Homo sapiens: one gene and its partner. The protein of the gene in region 2 interacts with the protein of the main gene of each other region in a pairwise test. Each region holds a gene or a part of one and is shown on either strand. Other genes may lie near its edges.

Region 1 (4,268 bases), on a different chromosome or scaffold from region 2:
TGCCAATTTCACATTTTTTCCATGCCCTCTTTCAACAGGTTGCCTGCAATTAAAGGCTAAAATATCATTAAAAGAACTTCACATTTTTACATACTCTAATTTATAACAAATTTTCTTTGTTAAGAAATTAAATCATTTGTCTTTATAAGGAAAAAATGAGAAGGTACACTCTAAAGAACTTTTACACATGCCTAAATAATCTTCAGAAGTAAATAATACTTTTGAAGTGACATTTTACTTCCCCCTACCCCAGAATAAAAGTAGGGTACTGAATATTCATCATAGATTTCTCTAAATTTTAAAGCAAACTTTCCTAAATAAGCTTAAATGTAGGTTTAATACAGAACTACTCATTATAACACTTGTTCTTTCTTTAAAACTTGACCAATTCCACATTTGCTCCTTTTCCCAAATTACATTTTTCCCTTACAATAATTTTCCACACAGAAAATTTATAAAGATTTTTCAAAGTCTACTTTTTATCTCATTTTCTTTTTCAACTGTCATGTTCATTCGATTAATGACGCAACGTTATTTAAAAAACAATATTTCGACATTGCTATTTTCGTGCTACATTCGATCTCATAATACCCCCCAACCTAGAGAAACATTCTAAATCCGACCGGCAATGTCATTATTTTTAAATTAGTAATTAAGCGAACGTTATATTTCCATATGGAAACCACTACAAAAATAACGTGCTTTCTAGCCCAACAATAGCTAATTATGTATTAAGCTAATTGAGACAAACCATGTAAACAAAATCTAAAGATAGACTATTCGGCGGTAGAAGCTATGATGTAAACCACATTTCTGTGGCATGTTGGAATGCACACTGAAGAAGCAGGCATGTTCCTTGCACATGTATACTTCGGGATATCAGCTCTTATAACAAGAGGGTGCACTCAACACCTCGTCTATCCCACAATATTTGGAACAGAAATACCTTAGTTTTTTATTAACGTGCTACCACTACAATACGCTTATATGCAGGTATCTGCTCTAGGTTTAGTTTTCCCCTTTCTGAACTATATGTTCATAGTCTCTCTTAAGTAAATACATGGGCATTGTTTTAAACACAGGAAATAATGATGAATGGTTCATGCGATATAACGATCTCACAATATGAAATTATCTGGACTATATAATCACTGCACCCAGTTAAAAATTATTTTTCAAATAGTAACCTACAAAGGTCAAAATGGGGGGAGGGGACAGGTTATCTGTCTTGGAACTCAGAGGGCAAGAGAGAAAGGAAAAGTCTGTGCAAAGCATATGGTGAAATAACCAGTGTTCTTAACCACACATCGCTTTGATAAATACATTTTTGTCCTAAAGAGGGCCGCCCTTTCACATTGCAAACACGGACACTGGCGGGGATCGAGGGGACATATCCTTGCAGCCTTTGGACAGGTTCCAGTAACACTTGCAGACAAATGAAGGTTTGCATTCTTGAAACCTATCCATATGGATGCAGTTCCCAAATCCCTGCTGCCTCTACCACTTCCAAATGCGTGCAAGGAGAGTCGGACACACGCACAAGCATGCAGAACAGGATCTCAATTCCAGCACGCACACCGCGAAGTAGACAAGTGAATTCTGCTGCTGGAGTCAACTGTCCGCCCGCCCCCGCCGTTTAAAAACACGCAAAAATTAACCTCGCTATTAGGAGGCTATGCTGAGGAAGTGTTCCAAAGAGGAGAACCGGTGCAGTCCAGCGGCCGCTGCCTCGCGAGTGCAGACTCTCCCCGGGTCAGTAAAGATGCGCACTAGGCTAGGTACCTTCGCCCAAGTGTTACTCGAAGTGCCAAATTTGCCTTCTCGCCCCCTGAAATGCAATCCGAACTTGCGGCCCCACTGCGAGGTTGGCGGGTGCCAGCTTTAGCCTTCTTAGAAATGACAGGAAACCAAATGGGGAGATGGGAGACAAACGCTCAACACACGAGTGCGCTCACAAACACACCCGGAGCCCAGTAGCTCCTCATGCTCGGGCACTTTGGAGCCTCAGATCCGGCAGTGGCGAAGAGAGAATCGAAGCGAGGGAGAGCGGGGTGGGACGTCCCCGACTCTCTCCCGGCCACCGCTCGCATGATTCCCGTCCCTTTCGGGGCACTTGAGTGCCAGCGGGCGTTCCCCACCCTCAGTCCCAGAACTCCAACTCCGCACCAGATCGCGCTGTCGGAATTCAAGTGCCCCCATCTTCCCCAAATCAACAGCCTCTCTCGTCCCTACCCAGCCCCTTCTTTGGACTCCAAACACAAGACCTCTCCTACCCGCGCCGAAAACTTTTTCCTCCTTTCGCAACGAGATAAGGCAAGAAACCAGGTCAGCCGCTACCGCCACCCGCTCTGCCCAGCGCCTGGGTGGCGGGCGCCGTCCCTACCTGGCAGCTGCGCTCCAGGTGGCTGTCCCACGCCGGTCTCCGCGCCTGCCCGGTGCGCGGGTGGCGTCCGCTCCACCTTCCCTTCGTCTCCTCCGGCTCCGCGTTCAGGGAGCGACTGTCCTTAAGATCGTGCCCCCCTGCCCGGAGCCGCCCTTCAGTTCATCGCCCGTCTTCCCAGAAGCGCTGCTGCGGCCCCGGCGGACTGATGAGGAGCCTGGAGATCCGCGATGGCACCGATGGCCCCGCGGTGTGCGCTCCGGGGTCTGAGAGCGCTCCGCCCGCGGGCAGCTGCGGCCGCGCGTCACATGCCGCCTCCGGGCAGCGGCCGCGGCACCTGCCCAAGCGGCAGCGCTCCCGGCTCGGCAGTGCCGCCCCCGCGCCCTGTGCTCCCCTGCACGCTCCGGCCCTTTCTGTTCACGCCCTTTTCCCTCTGTCTCCCGCCTCACTTTTTCTCTTCTTTCCGTCTCCTTCTTTATCGTGTATTCCCTTTCTCCAAAAGCAGAGAGAAGGCGCTCCAAGGGGGAGGAGAGGTCTTTTCCTCCCCACGAACTCTTCCTCTGCCTGGTGGTGGCGGTCGTGGCTACTGCTGGCCGCTCCTCCTCTCCTTCCTCCTCGCGTTCCTCCTGCTCCTCCTCCTCCCCGGACTGAGAGAGCTGGTGTAATGCACAGGCTGCGTGCTTGAGACCAAAACCTGCCCGGCTTCTGAGCATGCCCAGTTGCCCTGCCGGCGCCTAGCTCCATTCCCGCGTGCCCGCTGGGCTCCGCGTTCTCCGCCTGGCAGGGGGCGAGGAGATCCCAGGGTACTCCTGGGGTGGGTTGGCTGAAAGCGGAACACCAAGCAGGAGAGAGGGGGGCCTCACCCACCCAGCATGGCCTCACCTGTTCCCAAATTGTGCCTCCCGCGGCGCTTCAAAGATAGATTTTGCCGGTCTGTTAGTTTTGTTGTGTTCGCTTTTAAATTGGTTTCCCTGGACTGCTTAGAAGGACTGGAAGGAATTCGATTCCTTGGGCACAACTTATCGATGAGTGAACTTCAGCTCAGTTACAATATACGACTCCATGGCAAACCTTTCTCTAAGGAACAGTCTGATGCATCTACTTTTTGACATTTAGTGAGTCTGTTTCTGCAGAGCAGTGTAATAGAGGACGACTTGACTTTTCCCTCCCTGGACAGTTACACCTTGGGAGAAAATAAGACAAGCATCCATGAAGAAGACACTGACGTGCACGCGCGCGCGCGCGCGCGTACACACACACACACACACACACACACACACACACACACACACACTTTTTTAAATCAGAAAATAAAATGAAAGATATAACATTGCTAGCCAGTCTTTTAAAGCTCAAGAGGAATGAAAATCTAAGAAAGAAAGAAAGAAAGAAAGAAAGAAAGAAAGAAAGAAAGAGAGAGAGACAGAAAAGGTTATTATGTACTACTGCCAGCTAACTATGTAAGGAAAAAGTGGAGAGATACCAAATTTGAAAAGATACCAATGAGGCTGTCCCACGGCACTCTCGAGGTTTTGTTTAAAAAGCACATAAGGAAAGATAACAGAGGAATCTCACAAGAAAGGACAAGCATAACAATGATAACTGAAAAAGAAGAAAAGAAAGAAAAAGGAAGGAAGGAGGAAGATAAAAAGAAGAAAAAAGCAAGAAATTGAAGCATAGTATGAAATGAAATATTTAACAATATTAAAGGCAGCAAATGATTTTAATTCTATTTGGAACAAGAAGATAAATAGGAAAAGATAGAGCTCTTTGAAAAATTAAGTAATTCTAAGAGATTAGAGAAACACCAGTATATGAATTCCTTTCTGAACCTATATTCTTCTCTAGGTAGAACAATCTTTAGGAGAGAAGAGACTAAACTTTGCGT
Region 2 (3,813 bases):
CAGCTTCTAAGAGCTGGGACACAACAGTGGGGGAAAAAGTCCTGACCCTTACATTAGAGAATCAGATGACAGGCTGGGCCCGGTGGCTCACGCCTGTAATCCCAGCACTTTGGGAGGCCGAGGTGGGTGGATCACCTGAGGTCGGGAGATTGAGACCATCCTGGCCAACATGGTGAAACCCTGTCCTACTAAAAATACAAAAATTAGCTGGGCGTGGTGGCGTGTGCCTGTAGTCCCAGCTACTCGGGAGGCCGAGGCAGGAGAATCACTTGAACCCAGGAGGCAGAGGTTGCAGTGAGTTGAGATGGCGCCACTGCATTCCAGCCTGGTGACAGAGACTCCATCTCAAAAAAAAAAAAAAAAAAAAAAGACAGAATTGGATGATAAACACAGAAATAGATTGTGATAACTACAATGCTGTGAGGAAAAATAAAGGTCAAGGTGTGGAGACTATCAGAAGAGAGGGGATTTATATCAAGTGTTCAGGAGAAGCTCTTTAGAATATGGGTTAGGGACACCTGAGCAAAGACCAAAAGGAACTGAGGGCTCATGGCTACCTGAGGGAAAGGAGATCCAGGGAGAAGCAGCCCCAAGTTGGGAGCACACTGGGCATGCTGAAACAGCTGCAAGGCAGCCAGCAGGCTGGAGGGGCTGGGGAATGAGAAGGAAAGAGTGGGAGGAAACAGCCTGAATGGTGGGAGAAGACACAGCAGGGGACTACGAGGCCTCACAGTGTGGTGGATTCTGGGCTTCATTCTCAGTGAGCTGGGAAAGTAGGGGAGGGCTCTGAGCCCTCTCTGGCTGTCTTGCAGAGGTGGTGGTGGACATAGAGGAGGCTGTTGGATTAGTCAGGGTGAAAGGTATGTTGACTTTCCTATGGTGGGAACACTGAGAAATGGTCAGATTATGGATATATTTTATCATATTTTTTTTTTTAGAGACAAGGTCCCTCTATGTTGCCCAGGCTGGTCTTGAATTCCTGAGCTTAAGTGATCCTCCTGCCTCAGCCTCCCAAAGTGCTGTGATTACAGGTGTGAGCCACCACACCCAGCCAGATTCTGGATATAGAGTCTGCAGGGTTGAGCTCTTTAATGCTACACACACATATAAATGTATGTAATGTATATAAGTATATATAAACACGCCACTTCTCCCACTGGCTATAAAGCCCAGCCGGATGTGAATTGTTAAGCTGGGTGGGCAGGTTTTTCCTGCCTCTGGTCGCTATGGAAACCTTCCTGAAAGCAGCCATCTGGGAGTTGGCAGGAACAGCCCAGAGAGTTAGCCACGTCAGGGTGGCTGCCCTCCTGTTGTCACAGGAGTACTGAGAGGCAGAAAGTTGAAAAACAGGATTGATTTAGGAACCTTTGAGGAGCTCTAGAAAGAATTTTTCAAAATTAAATGTACATACTCCCTAGTTTGCTAATCTTACAATTTCCTATAAGGCAAATTTTGTTTAAAAAGCACAGAAGGTCAGATCTTACTATACACCCTGTTTTCCCCCATCTATGGGGAGGGGCAGAAAAGGTTCTGTCCATTTCCTGTGGTCTCTTCATATAGATCAGAGGGATATGGCCCCCCATTCACTCTGGTCCTCCTGTCCTGTCCTGTGTCCTATTTTCTTAACAACACAGCATAGTTGCTACTACTACAGAGATGGTTTTCTACAGACATTTACCATGGAACATGAAAGCTGTAAGCAACATAAGCAAAAATACTTCTTTTTTTTTTTTTTTTTTTTTTTTGAGACAGAGTCTCACTCTGTCGCCCAGGCTGGAGTGCAGTGGCGCAATCTCAGCTCACTGCAACCTCCACCTCCCAGGTTCAAGCGATTCTCCTGCCTCAGCCTCCCAGGTAGCTGGGATCACAGGCATGTGCCACCACGCCTGGCTAATTTTTTGTATTTTTAGTAGAGTTGGGGTTTCGCCGTGTTGGCCAGGCTGGTCTCAAACTTCTGACCTCAAGTGAGCCACCCGCCTCGGCCTCCCAAAGTGCTGGGATTACAGGTGTGAGCCACCGCACCCGGCCTGAGCAAAAATACTTCTAAGAGGCCTCTCAGATGCTGAAGACTGCATTTCCTCTGTGAGGAGGGGAAGAGGACACTTGAAGCTATCGATAAAAACTCACCTAGATAGAGAAGCACAAAGCCGGGAAAGTCCAAGAAAGGCTGGAGTAAAAAAAGATTAATGTGGCTTCTATAGATGCTAAAAAGGGGTAAAATCAGACAATAAATGCTCAAAGAAACATGAACATTTTTTAGAAAAGGAAAAAATATATGAATACCTTTTTCAAGGTAAGGGTACCAAATACTGGTTTTCTTCCTGGTTTTTCTCCTTGGCGCCTATTCTTCAGCACACCTCTAAAATGTACGTGGCTCCAATCTGGCTGCTACGTGGGCAAATAGCTTGTAGAGAGACAAGAGTGGATGCTTGCAGGCAAGTGTGGCGTGCAGAGGAAAGATTACGGAGAATGAGGCTGAAGTGACAGTGGAGAAAAAGAGAAGCAACAGATTCAAGACACAATCAGAGGTAGAATCAACAGGCCTTGCCGCAGAGTTGGATGTGGGGAATGAGAATGGGAGTGGCCACAGGCAAGGCCTAGGTTTCCAGTCTGTACTCCTGGGCTTATGATGATGCCATTTCCTAATATGAGAGAAATGGGAACAAAACAGGTTTGGGGAGGGGGGAAGTTAAGAAGTTAAGAGTTACGGGGCAGGGGCTGGGCACAGTGGCTCATACCTGTAATCCCAGCAGTTTGGGAGCCCGAGATGGGCAGATCACCTGAGGTCAGGAGTTCGAGACCAACCTGGCCAACATGGTGAAACCCCGTCTCCACTAAAATTACAAAAATTAGCTGGGCGTGGTGGCAGGCACCTATAATCCCAGCTACTTGGGAGGCTGAAGCAGGAGAATTGGTTCAGCCTGGGAGGTGGAGGTTGCGGTGAGCTGAGATCGTGCCACTGCACTCCAGCCTGGGCGACAGAGTGAGATCCTGTCTAAAAAAAAAAAAAAAGAGTTATGGGGTAATTTAAATGCTTATTTAGAAATCCAAGTGGAGCTGTTAAGTAGGTGATTACATCTATAAATCTATGTTTATGGGGAGATGTCAGAGGTAGAAACGTCAATTTGGGAGTTTTTCATTCATCTATCCAACCAACAAAAAAAATTTTTTGCAACTACTATATCCCAAACACTGTTCCATGTGTTAGAGATATAGCAGTAAAACAAGATGGACAAAGTTCTTGCTTTCATGAACCTGCAATTTCTTCTGTAAAATGGAAATAATACCTATACTACTTATGAGGTTAAGTGAGAAAATGTAGTACTTGTAACAATATTCAGCACGTGGCATGTGCTTAATAAATGCCAGTTATTATTAGTTACAGAAAACAGACAATAAATATGTAAATAATTTCAGAATAATAATACATGCCATGAAGAAAACAGAACAATAGGTTACAAAGTGGCAGGTAGGAGTGGAGGGGTTATTTTTAATTGGTGGTTGGGGAAGGCCTCTCTCAGGAAATGACTTTTCAGCTCACATGAGAATAACGATCAGGTCTGTGAAGATCTAGAAGAGTAGTGATGAGGGGGAAAGTAGCAGATAACGTTGGAAAAGGAGGCAGGAACTAGCTGACAGATGGCCCTTCTAGCCATGGCAAAAACTGGAATTTTTTTTTTTTTTTTTTTTTTGAGACAGGAGTCTTACTCTGTCACCCAGGCTAGAGTGCAGTGGCACAATCTCACTCACTGCAACCTCCACCTCCCGGGTTCAAGCGATTTTCCTGCCTCAGCCTCCCAAGTAGCTGGGATT

Evidence for each region.
Region 1: the proteins of SGSM3 (region 2) and CHRM3 interact in a two-hybrid assay, tested with the Homo sapiens proteins (one large-scale study listed by BioGRID and IntAct).

What each region holds. Positions count from the first base shown.
Region 1 is NC_000001.11:239,385,343-239,389,610, reverse strand, and holds the start of CHRM3 (muscarinic acetylcholine receptor M3), read right to left. Parts: upstream 3,044-4,268; 5' UTR 2,384-3,043; intron 2,371-2,383; exon of another isoform or gene 2,274-2,370; intron 1-2,273.
Region 2 is NC_000022.11:40,394,525-40,398,337, reverse strand, and holds part of SGSM3 (small G protein signaling modulator 3), read right to left. Parts: intron 1-3,813. UniProt on the Homo sapiens protein: May play a cooperative role in NF2-mediated growth suppression of cells.